Regions from separate parts of the Homo sapiens genome. Here all the other regions are linked to region 2. Evidence: fine-mapped expression QTL. A gene starts in region 2. Each other region holds a variant in brackets. All regions are shown on one strand. Distances are between the middles of the regions. Region 1 overlaps ZNF510 (zinc finger protein 510). Region 2 holds the start of SLC35D2 (solute carrier family 35 member D2). Region 3 overlaps SLC35D2 (solute carrier family 35 member D2).

Region 1 (6,029 bases), 380 kb after region 2:
AAAATTTAAAAAATTAGCCAGGTATGGTGGTATGTGCCTGTAGTCCCAGCTACTTGGGAGGCTGAGGCAGAAGGATTGCTTGAGCCCAGGTGGTTGAGGCTGCAATGAGCCATGATCACACCACTGTATACCAGCCTTGGTGACAGAGCAAGACCTTGTCTCAAAGAAAATGTTTATAAATGATCTATATATATTTATGAGTTATATACATATACTATAAATAGATACATTACTAAAACTTTTTTTTTATTCTTATTTTTGTAGCCAAAAAATGTAAATAAACTTCCTACAATTTGTATTCCATCCCAACAGACTACCCTGGGCATACATCATGGCAGGAGTCAGCAAATTATGGCCTTTGGGCCAAATCTGGCTTGCCAGTTTTTTGTGTATGTGTGGTAAAGACAGTGTCTTGCTATGTTGCCTAGGCTAATCTTGAACTCCTGGCCTCAAGTGATCCTCCCACCTTGGCCTCCAAAAGCTCTGGGATTATAAGTGTGAGTCACTGTACCTGGCCACTTACCGCTTTTTAAATAAAGTCAGTTGGCACACAGGCACACCCAATCATGTTGCATTGTTTATGGCTGTTTTTGTGCTGAAATAGCACTGAGAAGTTCCATCAGAGACCTTATGATTGTCAAAACTGAAAATATTTATTACTTGCCTTTATAGAAAAAAATGTACCATTCTCTGGACTAAATAATAGTATTAAAGAAAAGATAAAGTATAATACAACAACAAAGGAAACATTATATATATAGGGATTATGGAGATTGAAAGTAAAAGGATGGAAAAAGATATACCATATAATCAAAACCAAAAGATAGTTGATATGACTGCATTACTATCATATACAGTAGACTTTAAGGTAAGAAAGAGGTATAAAAAATGAGTAACGGGCCGGGTGCGGTGGCTCATGCCTGTAATCCTAGCACTTTGGGAGGCCGAGGCAGGCGGATCACGAGGTCAGGAGTTTGAGACCAGCCTGACCAACGTGGTGAAACCCCATCTCTATTAAAAATACAAAAATTAGCCGGGTGTGGTGGTGAGTGCCTGTAATCCTAGCTACTCAGGAGGCTGAGGCAGGAGAATCGTTTGGACCTGGGAGGCGGAGGTTGCAGTGAGCTGAGATCGCGCCACTGCACTCCAGCCTGGGTGACAGAGTGAGATTCTTGTATAAAAAACAACAACAACAACAACAACAAAAAACTGAGTAACGATTTGTAATGACAAAACAGTCCTTTCAATAGAAGATACAACAAATCAAAATTGCTATGCACCTGGCAAACATAGCGTCCAATTAGCATTTCTTATTATTCACGGATTACGTATTTGTAAATTCACACACTAAAATTATTTGCAACCTCAAAATCAACACTTGCAGTTATTTTGCAGTCATTTGTGGACATGTACAGGAAGGTAAAAAATTTGAATTGCCTGACCTACATGTTCCCAGATGAGGCTCAACAAGGTGATCTGCTTTCTTGTTTCAGCTCTGATACTGTAAATAAGTGTCCACTTCTCAGTCTATTTAGTGCCATATTTACTGCATTTTTGTGCTTTTTCTTGATGATTTCACTTTTTCTTTTTTTTTTTTGAGACAGAGTCTTGCTCTGTTGCCAGGCTGGAGTGCAGTGATGTGATCTCGGCTCACTGCAACCCCCGCCTCCCAGGTTCAAGCAATTATCCTGCCTCAGCCTCCTGAGTAGTTGGGACTACAGGCACGTGCCACCACGCCCAGCTAATTTTTGTATTTTTAGTAGAGATGGGGTTTCACCATGTTGGCCATGATGGTCTCCATCTCCTGACCTCGTGATCCACCCACCTCGGCCTCCCAAAGTGCTGGGATTACAGACGTGAGCCACTGCGCCTGGCCGATGATTTCACTTTTTAAATGGCCTATATGTATAACAGTTATGTGCTGTCTAGTGTGCCTATGTGCAAGAAGCCTGTGGTATGGCTCATGGAGAAAATATCTATGTTAGATAAGATTCATTCAGGCATTAGTTATGGTGTTGTTGGCCATTAGTTCAATCATTATAAACCAACAATATTAAATAAGGTGTCTTTATGCAGAAAGACACACAAAAAGATTATGTACTGACTGGCTGACAAAAATGTGACTAGAGGCTTAACCCCATATTTCTCCTCTGAGTAATGGTTCAGTATTTATTAGTTCAGTGTTTGTAGTGACTTTTTGGAACATTACTACTGAGAATTATGAGAACTGACTGTATATAAACAAAAGTTGATAGAAATGAGATATCAATCTACAATTTTAATTAGTGATTTTAATGTAACTCTCCCAGTAACTCATAGAAAAGCAGATTAAGAAAAACCAACAGGGATATAGAACAGGAGTCAGTGAACTACAGCACAAAGGTCAAATCCAGCTCACCACTACTATTTTTTTTTTTTTGTAAATGAAAAATACCACCACTACCAATTTTTTTTTTTTGTAAATAAAGTTTTCTTGGAACACAGCCACATTCATTTGTTTATGTATTATCTATGGCTGCTTAACACTACAGCTGCAGAGTTTGGTAGATGCAACAGAGACTGTATCTCTCACAAAGGCTACTATCTGACATTTACAGAAAGTTTTCTGACCACTGATATAGAAGATTGAAAAGACATAATTAACCAACCTGACTGACATATATAGGATAACCTCTGCATAACATAACTCTCTGGTTTCCTTTGCACATTAAAAAAAAAGGACAGTCTATCTCACTAAATTACAAAAAATTACAATCATACAGCGTAGCTTTAGATCTTAGCTTAGAGATGTAGAGAGCTGATAAAAGCAACGCTAACATCCTTACAAGAACATAGCT[G/C]GGAAAACAGAAAATTAGTATCTTTTTTTCAAACTATTAGGAGAGAGAGAGACGAGACAGGCACCTGCAGGGAGAATCAGGATGTGCTCATTTGCTTACTGGAGCAGATGCTACTCAACTCCATCTAATACAATTAGGAAGATAAAACTAGAAAAATTTAACCTGCTAAAGGCAAATGTGTACTAGTTTGAGTGTGTGAAGTCCCTGGGGGCCATACACATAGGTGGATTTTCACCTCGCTACAGGATCAAAGGGAAAATCAAAAGAGAAATGAGGCTGGGCATGGTGGTTCACGCCTATAATTCCAGCACTTTGGGAGGCTGAGGCAGGCGAATCACTTGAGGTCAGGAGTTCGAGACCAGCCTAGCCAACATGGTGAAACCCTGTCTCTACTAAAAATAGAAAAATTAGCCAGGTGTGGTGGTGCGTGCCCATAATCCCAGCTACTCGGGTGTCTGAGGCAGGAGAATTGCTTGAACCCGGGAGGTGGAGGTTGCAGTGAGCTGATATCGTGCCACTACACTCCAGCCTGGGTGATAGAGCGAGACTCTGTCTCAAAAAAACAAAACAAAACAAAACAAAACAAACCCCTGAGACCCAGAAATTAGAAAATACATTGAGATTACTCACAATGAATACACAAAATACCAAAATGCATGAGATGCAGCTAAGGCAGTGCTAAGTGTGAAATTTATAGCTGTAACACCTATATTAAAAATGATCCCAAATCAGTATCCTAATTGTATACTTTAAGGAACTAAATGAGGTGGGGACCTTACTACTAACCTTACAAAATAAAAAAGACTATAATAAAGAATACAGTGAACTGTATAGCAACAAATTACATAACCAAGATGAAGTGGACAAATTCCTAGAAACACACAAACCACCAAAATGGACTCAAAAAGAAACAGAACATCCGAACAGACTGATATAAGACTGAATCAGTAATCCAAATCCTCCCAACAAAGAAAGGCTCAAGACCAACTGTCAGTCTGTCTTTAAATGTTTGGTGAATTCTACCAAACATTTAAAGAAAAACTAACACCAATCCTTCTCTAATTCTTCCAAAAATAGAAGATGAGTGAACATTTCCTAACTCATTCTATGAGTTACCTTGAACCAAAGCCAGATAAAAAAATCACCCAAAAACTATGATATGTATCCCTTCTGAATATGTGTGCAGAAGTTTTCAACAAAATACTCGCAAACCAAATCTTGCAACAAATAAAAAGTACTATATACCATGACCAAGTACAATTTATTTCCAGGAATGCAAGGTGGCTCACCATAAGAAAATAAATCAGTGTAATATATCACAATAATAAAATGAAGAAAACAAGTCACACGATCATCTCAACTGATGCAGAAAAAGCATTTGACAAAAATATCCTTTCATGATAAAAACAAACATTTAACATGGTAGGACTAGAATAGAACTGCTGCAACACAATAAAAAGCATTTCTGAAAAACCACAGCTAACAGAATACGCTAGGCTAAAAAACAAGAAGGTTTCTTCCAAATATCAGGAATAAGACAGGGATGCCTGCTTTCATCATTTCTATTCATTATACTGGAAGTTCTAGCTAGAGGAAATAGGTAAGACAAAAATGCATCCAAATTGGAAAGAAAAAAGTAAAACTATCTCTATTCTCAGAGACCATGAGATTTAATACATGGAAAAGACTAAGGAAGCCACAAAAAACTATTAGAGCCAATAAATGAATTCATCAAAATTGTAGGATACAAGATGAACACACAAGAATCATTTATCTCTCTAAATACTAGCAATGAATAATAAAAAAGAAAACAATTCCACTTACAATAGAACAAAAAATAATAAAATAGGAATAAATTTAACCAAGAAGGTACATGACTTATACGTGAACACTAGAAAACACTGCTAGAAGAAATCAGAGGACCCAAATAAATGGAAAGACACCTTGTGTTCATGAATTGGAAGATTTAAAATTGTTAAGATGACAATACTCCCAAAAGTGATATACAGATTCAGTGAAATCTATATCAAAATCCTAATGACCTTTCTGCAGAAATGTTGAACCTACAATTTATATGAAATTGCAAGGGACCCTGAATAGTCAAAACAATCTAGAAAAAAAAGAAAAAAAATTGGAGGGATTACATTTCCTGATTTAAAAACTTATTATAAAGCAACAGTAATCAAGAGAGTGTGGTACTGGCATAAATACAGACATACAGATCCACAGAATAGCACTGAGAGCCCAGAAATAAACCCATACATTGGCCATTTATTAGGAAAAAAATAGTTTTCAACAGATGATGCTGGGATAACTGAATCTCATCAAAATAATGAAGCTGGACTCCTACCTTATACTGTATTTTAAAATTGCCTCAAAACAGCCAGGTGTGGTGCCTCACACCTGTAATCCCAGCACTTTAGGAGGCTGAGGCAGACAGATCACTTGAGATCAGGAGTTCATGACCAGCCTGGTCAACATGGTGAAACTCCGTCTCTACTGAAAAAATATAAAAATTACCCGGGCATTGTGGTGCATGCCTGTAATTCCAGCTACTCGGAAGGCTGAGGTGGGAGAATCACTTGAACCCAGGAGAAGGACGTTGCAGTGAGCCAAGATCGTGCCACTGGATTCCAGCCTGGGCAACAGACAAAGATTCCGTCTCCAAAAAAAAAAAAAATTGGCCTTAAAAGGGATCAAAGACCTAAATATAAGAGTTTAACTGCATGACTCTTAGATGAAATCAGGAGTAAACCTTTATGACCTTGGATTTGGCAATGACTTCCTGGATATGATACCAAAGAAAAAAAAATTGGACTTCATCACAATTAAACTTTTGTGCAAAGGATACCATCAAGATAGTGAAAAGAACCTACAGAATAGGAGAAAATATTCACAAATACTACATTTAATAAATGTCTAGTAGCCAGAATACATAAAGAACTCTTATAACTGAACAACAAAAAATGTAATCCAAAATGGGCAAAGGACTTGGATAGACATTTCTCCAAAGATGATAAACAAATAGCCAATAAGCGCATGAAAAGATGTTGAATGTCATTAATCAAGGAAATGCAAATCAAAGTTAAATGATACCACTTCACACCCACTAGGATGTCCATAATTTTAAAAAAAGGGAAAATAACAAGTGGTTTTAATGATGTGGAGAAAGTGGAACCCTAATACACTGCT
Region 2 (6,029 bases):
CTCACTGCAACCACTGCCTCCTGAGTTCAAGTGATTCTCCTGACTCAGCCTCCCAAGTAGCTGGGATTATAGGCGTGCACCACCATGCCCAGCTAGTTTTTTTTTGTTTGTTTTTTTTGTATTTTTAGTAGAGACAGGGTTTCACCATGCTGGCCAGGCTGGTCTCGAAATCCTGACCTCATGATCTGCCCACCTCAGGCTCCCGAAGTGCTGGGATTACAGGTGTGAGCCACCGCGCCCGGCCTTTTTTTTTTATCCTAAGTGTTTAAGTTTTCTTTTTCCTTCATTAGCTTCCATGTCAAATGCTCCAGGTTTAGGTACAGTATGTCCATGTTCATTTCCTTGAGGCAGGGCTGTGTTTTCCATGGACACCAGGCAGCAGGCTGCAACACACTGGAGAGACCTTGCCAAGAATACTGACGGCCACAGGATCACCAAAAAATATCCCAAATCCATCCCTTCCTTTTACCTCCGCTGCTATGCCCTGCCCAGTCCACGCCGTCTTTACCTGCAGCCCTGCAGTGGCTTCCAGCCCCTCTCCCTGATGCCAGTACTGTCAGTTCTCCACCCGCCTGCCAGCCAGAGAGATCTTTTTAATCACACAAATTGTGTCAGGTCACTCCCATGTCAAAACCTTCCAAGGGACTTCTAATTGCATTTAGCATGAAACTACAACTATTTATCCAGTCTCATCCTTCCACCCTGGTCCCCAGATGTCGGCTCTCAACACAGCAGCCACAGTGATTTAGATCATGTAATTCCCCTGCCTGACACCTTGCGTGGCTCCCATCTCATTCAGAGCTGATGCCAGAGCCCTGGCGGTGGCCTCCCAAGGCCCCACACAGGCCAGCAATCCATTACTCTCAGACCCCATCTGCTACCATTCCCATTCAAACTCTTCACTCCTCCAGGCCTGGAATGCTCTTCCCCCGTCCCCCAGTGTGGCTTATGTCCCCACCTCACTCTGGTCTTGGCTCCAATGCCACCTCCTTCTGAGGCTCCACTGATCACGCTCACACTGCATACTCTCCCCTCCCTCTCTCCCTCACTCCCTTTCCTGTTTTATTTTTTCCCCAGCACCTTGGTCACATCTGACATAATGTAAATGTTACTGGCTCATTTATTGGTCCACAAGGATGCAGCTCCGTGAAGTTAAGGATTCTGATCTGCTCTTTTCACTTCTCTTTCCCAAGAACGGTGGGAAAACACTGTTCTCCTCGAACAGTGCTGGTACATCACAAGTGCTTAGTGAAAGCTATCAAAAATGAGAGAAAGAGCTGACTCCTGCCTTCCCTGCCTACCTCCCCGCCCAGGCACAGTGATCTTCTCTCTGTTCCTCCAGCAGCCAAGCTCATGCCCACTTCAGCACATTGTACACTTGCTGCTCACTTCTACCTGGAATGCTCTGTGACAGCTACTCCAGCCCAGGCACTCTCACATCAGATCTGAAAGTGTCTCGTTTATTCATGAACCTACCTGTTTATTTTCTGTCTCCACCACTGAAGCAGAATCTCCAGAGCAGGGACCTTGTGCTGTTCACAGAGGCTTCCCTGGTGCTTGCAATGGGCTCAGTATTTAGTAGGTGCTTAATAAATATCTGTTGGAGGTACAACCAATCGAGCTTATGTGGGCCTCAGTTTTCTCGAATATAAAATAAGAAAGGTGAGGCTGGATGAGATAGTTTGCACCTGTAATCACAGCACTTTGGGAGGCCAAAGCAGGCCTAGACCAGCCTTGGAAACACACTGAGACCCCACCTCTACAAAAAATCAAAAAAATTGCCGGTGCAGTGGTGCACACCTATGGTCCCAGCTTCTCTGGAGGCTGCAGCAGAAGGATTGCTTGAACCCAGATGGTCGAGGCTGCAGTGAGTCATGATTGTGTCACTACACTCCAGCCTAGGCAACAGAGTGAAACCTTGTCTCAAAAAAATATTATACACACACACACACACACACACACACACACTATATATATATATATATATATGCCTGCCTTGGCCTCCCAAATGCTGTGATTACAGGTGCAAACCACCTCAGCCAGCCTCAGCTTTCGTATTTTATATTCGAGAAAAGTGAGACCCACATAAGCTGAATCTGTATGTATATATAAAAAAAGAAAGCTGATACTCTAAGATACTCTCTAACTAAGACACTCTAGGTCTCTTTGGGCTCTAAAATGTTGATGGCATATTCTTGTAACATAGTAGAGTTTACAAAGAGCCTTCACATATAACAGCTCGTGCAGAGCCCTGGAGGGTAATTAACACGATTGTAATCATTCAGGTTTTTTGCATCTGAAAAAAATTGCTGACTGTGAGACTGGTCCAAAAAGACAGGTGTTAACCGGTGGAGCTGGGTCTAAATCCACAATTTTCTCAGTGCCGCTACAATGGTAGCAGAATTAAGCAGGATTTTCTAGTCCTTACAAATAGGTTCAAGGCAGCACAAATTTGCGTTTACTTCACACTAATCCAAAAAAGTACTCCATATGAACTTCCAATTGTTTTCCCGAGTTTTCCATGAACACGCTGGTCATCTGAGAATGAACAGTCAATCAATACAGACTTACTGGCTCAGGAGTACCTGACCGTTGAACATGGAGATCTGTGTAAGGAATTGCGTCCTTTGAAGCAGGCATTTGAATCCCTGTTTTCAGCTCGCTGGGTGTATGAAAGAATCTGTCTGAGCTCTACCAGCCCACCTAGGACAGGGCGCCTCGCAGCAGGGCAGGCGCGCTCAGGAAGAGAACGACTTTCTCAGGTTGTGGCCTGAGTGTAGAAAGCTGAGCGAGTTCTGGAGGGCGCCTGGGAAACTCGACCAATGTGCCCAGCTGAGACTCGAGGGTCCCTGTCCCCACCCGCCCTGTCCCGGGCGCCGCTGAAGCGCACGGAGGACAGGGGCAGCCCCGCACTCCCGCAGACCCCCCGGCCCCGGGCCCCGCCTCACCCGTAGGTGGTCAGCAGCGCCTTGTTGACAAGCACGATGAGGAAGGAGCAGGTCCCGTAGAAGAGCGCCGACAGCAGCCGGGCCACCCGCGAGGGCAGCCGCGCCGCGCCGGGCTCCCCGCCAGCGCCCTCGGCCTCGGCCTGGCCGCCGGCCGTCATCTCCTGCGGCCCCGCGGACCCCGCCGCCCGCCAGCCCCGGCTGCGCACTGGTCCCGCCCGGCCGGGCCGGGGAAGAGGGCGCGGCAGGAACAGGAAGAGCCCGGCGCAATCCCAGGTCCCGACCCGCCCCCTGCGAGCGCCCGAGGCCGGCGCGGGAGGACCCTGCGCGCTGGACTTCACCCTGGTTCCAGGCACCTCCTTCGGTCTCCAGGGCCGGCAATGCGCTGGGGAGTTGAAAAGCGCTGCCTTCCTCCAGGCTTTCCTGGAAAGAAACGCTTCAGTAAGTCTCAGGGCTTGTTTTGCTTTTTTTTTTTTTTCCCTACAACTTTTTTGTTTAGTGTATAATTTACATACAATGAAGTGTACACATCTTGCCAGTCCATAGTTTGAGATGAGCTTCGACAAAGGCATCCACAGGAGTAACTACTCAAAACAACATTTCCATCGCCCCAAAAATTCCCCTTGCTGCCCCTTTGAAGTTAACGCCCGCATCTCATCGATGACTATTGCTGTAGGTTAGGTTTGCCTTTTCCGGAATTTCAAATAAACAGGGTGCTTTCTAGAATTTATGAATGAGCATGTGGTCTCAGGGGTTTTCACTCTATGCTTTGGACTCGACCATGTGGTTTGTTTAATCGTTGAATAGTATCACAAATTGTGTATCCATTGGTTGTTTCCAGTTTAGGACCATTAGGAAAAATGCTTCCATGAAAATTCGTGGGCGTTTGTGGGACCTGTGTCTTCATTTCTCTTAAATAAATATCTAGGAGTGGAGTGGCTAGGAGTAAGGTGGGTGAAGCCTTGGGACTTGGGTGTCCTCTGGGTGCTTTGTGGTAGGTGCATTCCTCGCGGAGGGCCGTTTGCCTTCGGGTCAGGTCAGTTGAAGGACAGCTTCCCAGAACCGCCTACCCTTGTCAGTCTTTAAAAAATATGAACTTTTGGCCAGGCGCGGTGGCTCACACATGTAATCCCAGCACTTTGGGAGACCGAGGCGGGCAGATCACGAGGTCAGGAGATCGAGACCATCCTGGCTAACACGGTGAAACCCCGTCTCTACTAAAGATACAAAAAAAATTAGCCGGGCGTGGTGGCGGGCGCCTGTAGTCCCAGCTACTCAGGAGGCTGAGGCAGGAGAATGGCGTGAACCCGGGAGGCAGAGCTTGCAGTGAGGCGAGATCGCGCCACTGCACTCCAGCCTGGGCGACAGAGCAAGCCTCCGTCTCAAAAATATATATATTATATATTTAATATATAATGTATATTATATATATATATATATATGAACTTTTAGCTTCTTAGAAAAGCTTAAGATTTCAAGTTAAATAAAAGTTGGGGCCTAACTATATAGATGCCCAGAGAATTGTTTTTCTACCCTTAGGCACTAAACAACCAGGAGAATGAAAACTGGGAAACATTTTCAGCCCTGATAAGAACTAAAGCAGAACTCGTGAAAATTAGCTAGCATTAAAAAGACCAGAAGTGCCCAAGTTACCCAAAACAAGAAAGAAAAGACATGTTAAGTCCGTTTTAAAAGAGAAAATGAATCCATATTCAAGTTAAACAGGAAATCGGTCATTTTGGTTAATTTCCTCAGAACATTCAATTTTCTTGTGAGTCTCCAAATGTTTTGACTGCAAAAAGAATATTTTAAAGTTATTTTTAATGATGACCTTCATCATAATTGCATTTAGTTTGATTGTATACACATACTTCCAGGACCTTACCTCGCTGTCAAAATCCCATCCTTACCCTGTTTAAACAGCAACTCACACTAAGGAGTTGCTTGTGATATTCTTCTGCACAAGGGTAGGACAGGCTGACCCTTGCCACTGCAAATACACAACTAAAGATCTACCAAAAATAACTGATGAAAAAAGAAAACCAATTTGCTAGACTCTTAGAAAAGTACACAGGCTTTAAATGGATTCTTGAGGAGCTGACCCCAGAGACAACCCATCCTAAATGTAAGTGAAATGAAATCCCTTTTCCTTATTACCCTAATTTAAGGCCTGGAAATGGGGTGGCAATAGTTCAATACTTATCCACAGCAGTATATTTTTAACACTGTAGTAATGAACCCGATGAGGAAGTTAAATATCTATAACCTTAAAAGCCATAATTAAAGTAAGAAAAAGCAATCCACACTGTACTTACAACTACGCAAACATGTACTGAAATAATACTGATGGCTGAACATAAGGCTGTAGGTGATGTTTCTATCTTTTAAATTTTTTTATATCATGGTTATTATATTTTCGATAGGAAAACAAATGATAAAGGCTTTAAGAATGACCGTGTACTTTAAATTTTAAATTAAAATAAATTTTTATTCAAAGCATCTTTTAAAATTACAGCATGTTTATTCTTATGCTGTTAACTCTGCCAAACTACAACTTAGCCATATGAAGCATAAAACACTTCAAAAATTTGAATGTAAACCATTTTTTAAAACAAAAAGCAGTCTTAACACACCTCAAATTTTAGATACCAATGTATTTTTCCAAGTATATAGCTTATATCAAAAAGAACATTTTAAATGTTTCTAAATAGTTGTGATAATTTCTTAAACTGTTGCAATTATACAAATAAAAAATGTTTATGAAAAAACTATTAGAGTTGACAAAAGCTGACTGGAGAAACAAGGAAAAACCCTTACTTTTGAAGGCCTTAAATGTTATCATCTGTGAATTGGCAAATATTTGTATTTGAAAAATTCTTACTACCCTTCCTTCTTTAGTTAAGTTGATCAAAGTTCAAATTTCCCAAGACTGATGAGTGTTGTTTTTAGTTCATTAAATCACATATTTGAGAGCAAAAATTCTAGAGGAAATGCTGAAACATAAACCAAGATAATTCAGATGCTATAGTCTCTCTTACCAGCTTATAAGTGCTCCAAATTAAAATTCTATATACCACATTACAA
Region 3 (6,029 bases), 38 kb before region 2:
CACTGACTCAGTTTAAAATTGATTGATGGTAGCTGAAAAACAAATACTGTGTTTTCAGGTATCATGCCCTGCTCATTCTTACTAGAGAGGTGCAGGTGCCCGCTTTATCTTCCAAAACGGAATTAACAGGGAGGCTCAGGTTCACAACGTTCTAAATAACCCGAAAAAGAGAGCTCTTTATCGAGATTGGTGCCACTTGGTAGTTTTCCATATAAACCCGTGGAAATGGCTGTTTGTGCCCGGGGACGAGGTTGCTAAGCCCTTCTGCTGATCCCTCCTTCTGGGAAGAGAATTGGACAAGTGAGAAAGTCCAGCTGGAGAAAGAACAAGGAGCTGCCCAGGAGTCCACAGCAGCCTGCAGCCTTTCAGAGTCACTCAGACCCTAAAAGAGCTGCAAATGGGATTGACTTTCAACTGGTGGGCAACATACACCCATGCTGATTGCTAAATATGGAAACACTGTCCTGTCCATGGGTAAATGGGTGCTGCCCCAGCCCCAGGCCAGCAATGACGGGGTTATCGCCTGGCTGGTCAGGGCTGTGTCCGGAGTCGAGTCTGTGGGTGGAGGTCCCGCTGAGGAGGGTTTTGCCCATCGCATCTCGTTTCTCACAGTCACTTACACATCAGCAAAGTTCTCAGAGGCTGTGTGGCCCGCGACTTCCTGAAGAAGTCCGGGCTTGCACCCTTCGGGGTGGCCACTGGAGCTGTCACTATGGAGAATGTCCACACGTCCTGAGAGACTTGGCCTCCACCGCTCCACTGGGCCTCAGATCTTACCACTAATTTACCATTTTATTTGTCTCTCACCAGCAGCAGATACGGTTTCAGGGCAAATGCTGAAAGAACAACACCTTCCCAAAATTCAAATGTGGATCCTGGAATATTTAGAGGTAAAATGGCGTGATGGCTGGGATAGGTTTTAAAATACTCCAGAGGAACAAAAAGCTGGGGATGGATGAGGACAGATAAAATAAGATGGCAAAATGCCAAAGTGTTGAAGCTAGGTGGTGGGTCCCTGACAACTCATTGAATTACTCTATTTTGTGCATGTTTCAAAATGTCCGTAATAGAAAGTAACAAATAAATAAACAAACCTATGTTTTAAAATGATCAAAATCCCCTTCTAGGGTAAGTAGCTCTCCCAGGGTCCCCACATTAGCAAAGGGGGATATGGAATTCAAACTCAGATTTGTATTGTTGTTTTCCAAAAAGTACCAAGTCCAGAGTTCTTGGCTCTCCTTGATATGTGGCTAAGGATAAATGCCAATGCAAGGGTAGTGCCAAAAGGTGTTACTAGGGATATCAAACATCTTGTTATCATGTACCCTCCTGGTAGTCCTAGCTAACTTTACACTTTTTGTTTCAGTGCATATCAAATGTTAAATATTAAATTTTTTAAAGCCAGCTAAGGAAAACTGTAATGATTGTCATCAGCTCACCTGTTGCAGGTCTCCAGTGGAGACACTAATAATAAGAGTTGGGATAATCATGAAGCAGGCATTGTAGAAAAGTACTCCGTATTTCCCTAGCTCCTGCAAAAACAAAAATGTAAAAACCACTCAGTTTCAGAAACGTGAGGCACAGATTTCCTGGAGCCATTTATACAACTGCATATTCATGCGAAGTTAGAATGTGCATTCTGAGCAACTCTTTTGGAATATTTTCAGCAAATTTCTGACATAAAATGCTTTGGTTTGAGGGTACTGAGATTTTGGAATAAACATTTGTTTTACACCAAAACTACAGAGAAAACGCATGGCAGTGGGAAGCCTCTAGGGTTCCATTCATCTCCAGCATTCTAATTATGTGGGGTTTTTTTTAAAGCATGTAATTCAAAATGGGAAATCTGGAACAAAATAAAGAACATTAAAAATGTTAATATAAACAAAACTCTTTAAAAACATCTGCTCTTTCCATTAAAGGACAGCAGCATCATATATTTACTTTCATTAAAGTGGCCACACCACTTCACCATTTTCAAAAAAGGATGACATATTGTGATCCTCAAAAGACAACAAACCTGTTTTTGCAAAACTTCTACCGTTAAAAAAAAAAAAAAAAAAAAGGCCATGCAGGGGAAAAAAAAAAAAAACAGAGCAGATAAAAAAAAAAAAAAAAGAGCAGATTAAAAAAAATAGCTCATGGAAATAAGCCTGTTGGTCAGAGTGAACTCCCTCATCCAGCACAAAGAGCTTGGAACAAAGAAACATATGCCTGACTCATCCTCCGGGCTTCCTTGTAACAGCTGGGGGTGGGGGAGGGATGGGGGAGGGGGAGGGATGGGGCCTCCACGTGACAGGCAGCCACACAAAAGCAAAGCTCCTCTGCCCCACCCCTCATCATCAGAAGCAGCAGCTATTGCTGGACAAGACCTTACAAATTATCCATTGCAGTCATTTCATTCCACAGATAAGGAAACTGAAGTTTGGAGAAGTTAAGGTTCAAAGTCACAACAGTCAGTAAGTAGAAAAACTTGTGTCTGTAGCCCACATCTCCAGACTCCAAACTAGCGCTCTCTGAACAAATATCGTGACCCCTGACCTTGCCTTGGTGATTGATGATGCTGGTAAAAAAATTAATTTGCCTTTCAGAATAATCCCTTTTTATATGTTCTGAGTGTGCATCTAAACTAGTGGCTTTTCCCATCATATCTCATTTTCACCCAAAATTTCGCAAATAATAACTTATACAGACAAGATAATTGAAAATAAGGAATTTACAGGTCATATTATATAAATTAAATTACATTCCAACTGTACACATTCATTTTCATTTTTCATATAATTCTAGGGGCCAGATGACAGAGCCAAAAAGCCATAGGCAAGGTCTGGTACCTTTGGGTCCATTTTCTGTTTGGTATAAACTCCATTTGCTGCTGTGAAGATATCATTCAGGAATACAAAAATATAGCCTTCTAAGTTAAAAGCAAGGTCAGACCT[G/T]GGAGGGAGACCACAAAGGGAGAATGATTACTCAAAAACTCACAACTTGGCCTCCAAGCCCGCCTGATCTACCTTTCCCTAATCAAACCCACTTTTCTGTGGCACACTTTCCCCGCTTTGTGGTAGTGAATGATTAATTCCTCTGCTTTGCCTCCAGACAAAAACCAAACCAGCCCATCAGATGGCTTCGACTCAATCGTGAATGGCTTAAAACCAGAGCGACATTAAGCATCTTCCTTCAACTGCAACCCCTTTCTTTCGCTAGCTGATGAATCCACATAATAACTGGTGAGCCCTGACTTTCCTAAGGGGAGTGATTCGCCCCGATCCACCCAGGGGCTCTGCTTATTGTAGTGAACAGGGCCACCTCCAGGGTGCAGCCAGTGAGGGGCAGCTGGGCAGAGGCTGGGTAAGAGGGGTCGCATGAGGCAGCCACACCTCCATCTGGTGCCCAAACCGCACCCCGTCCATCAAAATGGCAAGGCAGGTATCCATCCTTCTATGTGACCCCTCTATGGCTCCTTTCTTCCCATTCTTTTGAAACAGCTTCTCTTCCATTTCCATTATAAATAGCACCAGCATAAATACGTTTGGGGATCTATGACAGGAACAAGAGGAAGAGCAATAGCTGAGCCATGATGTGGCCCACCCACCTGCACTTGATCGTTGCAGACAGTGCTAGGCCATGTCATAATTCAGAAATACACATTGCCAGGGAGGAAAACCTTTTCCTGTACCCTCTTAGATTCAGTGTCTGGGGGCCTGCTAATTTAACTGATAAAAGACAGATTAACAGGAGAAAGAGAATACGAATCTTATTAATATGTTCCCTGAAGTTCACAGAAAAGAAGTGAAACTCAAAGAAACAGTTAGACTTGGGGACTTACGTTTTAAAAAGGAAAGAGGATTTGGGCTTCAAGGAACAAATAAATTGTGTAATTGTTAGAAAGTAACTAGGAAACCTATGGTGGAAATGATGAACGAGAAGGGTTCTTTTAGGGTTTGTTTATGCAGATGCATCTCAGGGCCGACCCTCCGTCCAGTGATAGGAATTGCTCTCCTCTTCCTGGGATGGGAGAAGCGGTCCTCTTCACAATGGGAAATTGATTCCCTGGTTTTTAGGCAGAAAGGAGAAGGCAGCAAACTTCCTGATCTGTTGATTCTCAATCTTTCTCGGCTCAAAATAATCCTGATCTCACAGTGGCACAGTTTGCAGTGGCATACCCTGAATCTTCTTCAATGTCAAAATAAGATTATTTCTAACCAAAGAGAATGAAACACAGAGCAAAAATTCTACCAAAATCTGAATGCAAATTAAATTGGATTTTTGCTTGACGCCTCCACACATTATTATCTACAAATATATTTGTGAGAAGGGAAATTAATTTTAGTCATCATAAGTCAGAATTCTCCCTCAGTCACAATTTAAAAAAAAAAAAAAAAGGATTTTTGGCCAGGCGTGGTGGCTCCTGCCTGTAATCCCAGCACTTTGGGAGGCCAAGGTGGGTGGATCACCTGAGGTCGGGAGTTCGAAACCAGCCTGACCAACATGGAGAAATCCCATCTCTACTAAAAATACAAAATTAGCTGGGCGTGGTGGCACATGCCTGTAATCCCAGCTACTTGGGAGGCTGAGGCAGGAGAATCACTTGAACCAGGGAGGCAGAGGTTGTGGTGAGCCAAGATCGTGCCTCCAGCCTGAGCAACAAGAGCGAAACTCTGTCTCAAAAGGATTTTCTTCAAAATAAGGGTCTTCCAAATTTCTTACCTACCCACATGTGATTCAGCGTGAAGAAGAGCAGAGTCTGCCGCCCCCTGAGACAGCAGAGCCAAGTGAGTGGAAAGGGGATGGGGGGAGATGCTGCCCACCTCCTGGGAGAGCTGCAGGGGAACTCCTACTCAGGGGACCAAGAGTTCCCAGCAGCGCTGTTCCCACTCCCGGAAGCCTGGGTCACTGTCAGGCAGCTTACCCACTGTTTGTTTAGGCCAGTGGTGACAGCACAGACATTTCTGAAGAATTTACTTGTTTAATCAATTAGAGCAGATTCATGTAACCCTTGCAGTTGTTCAAGCGATCCTCCCATCTCAGTCTCCTGAGTAGCTGGGACTACAGGCATGTGCCACCATGCCCGGCTAATTTTTTTACTTTTATTTTTGTAGAGACAGGGTTTCATTATGTTGCCAGGGCTGGTCTCGAACTCCTGGGCTCAAGCAATCCCGTCACCTGGGCCTCCCAAAGTACTGGGATTGTCAGAGGCGTGTGAACCCGAGCAACTCCATCTTAAATAGGAGCTGGGTAAAATGAAGCTGAAACCTACTGGGCTGCATTCCCAGGCGGTTAAGGCATTCTAAGTCACAGGATGACATAGGAAGCCGGCACAAAATACAAATCATAAAGACCTTGCTGATAGGCCAAAACCCACTGAAACTAAAATGGCCACAAAAGTGACCTGTGGTCATCCTCACTGCTACACTCCCGCCAGCGCCGTGACAGTTTACAAATGCCAGGGCAATGTCAGGAAGCTACCCTATATGGTCTAAAAGGGGAGACATGAATAATCCACCCCTTGTTTAGCAAATCATCAAGAAATAACCATTAAAAATGGGCAACCAGCAGCTCTGGGGCTGCTCTTTCTATGGAGTGGCCATTCTTTTATTCCTTTACTTTCTTAATAAACTTGCTTTCACGCTGCACTGCAGACTCGCCCTGAATTCTTTCTTCCACAAGATCCAAGAACCCTCTCTTGGGGTCTGGATCAGGACCCTTTCCTGTAACAGGATTACAGGCATGGGCTACCACACCCAGCCCAGATGTATTTTAACTTTTTCTGGCCATGTAACTTGTTTTTGAATAAAATGTAAGAGAAGGTGACACGTCACTTCTGGGTGAAACCTTTAAGAGCCAGTGCATAATTCCCCACCTTCCCTTTTCCTGCTTGTTTGGCAAAGGAAGTGCCCTCTGAGGCAGGGATTCCATCAGCCTGGATCCCTGAGTGAACACATGGAGCAGAGCCCTCGCACTAGCACTGCCTAGTGTTGGACAGCGTGGATGGCGTGGATGGGGTGCATCTGGTGAGTGAAGCTACTGCC

What was found.
Region 1: its variant is fine-mapped to the expression of SLC35D2 in whole blood (TOPMed, PIP 0.97).
Region 3: its variant is fine-mapped to the expression of SLC35D2 in whole blood (TOPMed, PIP above 0.99).

The regions. Positions count from the first base shown.
Region 1 is chr9:96,763,935-96,769,963 of GRCh38, forward strand. The region is part of intron 3 of ZNF510 (zinc finger protein 510); the gene reads right to left. Among named protein-coding and RNA genes, the nearest start is that of ZNF510, 11 kb to the right of the region's middle. The variant G/C (reference allele first, on the strand shown) is at 2,838.
Region 2 is chr9:96,380,529-96,386,557 of GRCh38, forward strand. It overlaps SLC35D2 (solute carrier family 35 member D2), which reads right to left and starts at 3,183. Exons shown (of 12, transcript NM_007001.3): 1 at 2,949-3,183. The coding sequence starts at 3,106. It overlaps ZNF367 (zinc finger protein 367), which reads right to left. Exons shown (of 5, transcript NM_153695.4): 5 at 5,413-6,029. It overlaps SLC35D2-HSD17B3 (SLC35D2-HSD17B3 readthrough), which reads right to left and starts at 3,183. Exons shown (of 26, transcript NR_182427.1): 1 at 2,949-3,183. RefSeq lists silencers at 2,782-2,831, 2,842-3,171.
Region 3 is chr9:96,342,465-96,348,493 of GRCh38, forward strand. SLC35D2 (solute carrier family 35 member D2) reads right to left here. Exons shown (of 12, transcript NM_007001.3): 7 at 2,835-2,937; 8 at 1,440-1,532. SLC35D2-HSD17B3 (SLC35D2-HSD17B3 readthrough) reads right to left here. Exons shown (of 26, transcript NR_182427.1): 7 at 2,835-2,937; 8 at 1,440-1,532. Among named protein-coding and RNA genes, the nearest start is that of SLC35D2, 38 kb to the right of the region's middle. RefSeq lists enhancers at 14-538, 539-1,062. The variant G/T (reference allele first, on the strand shown) is at 2,940.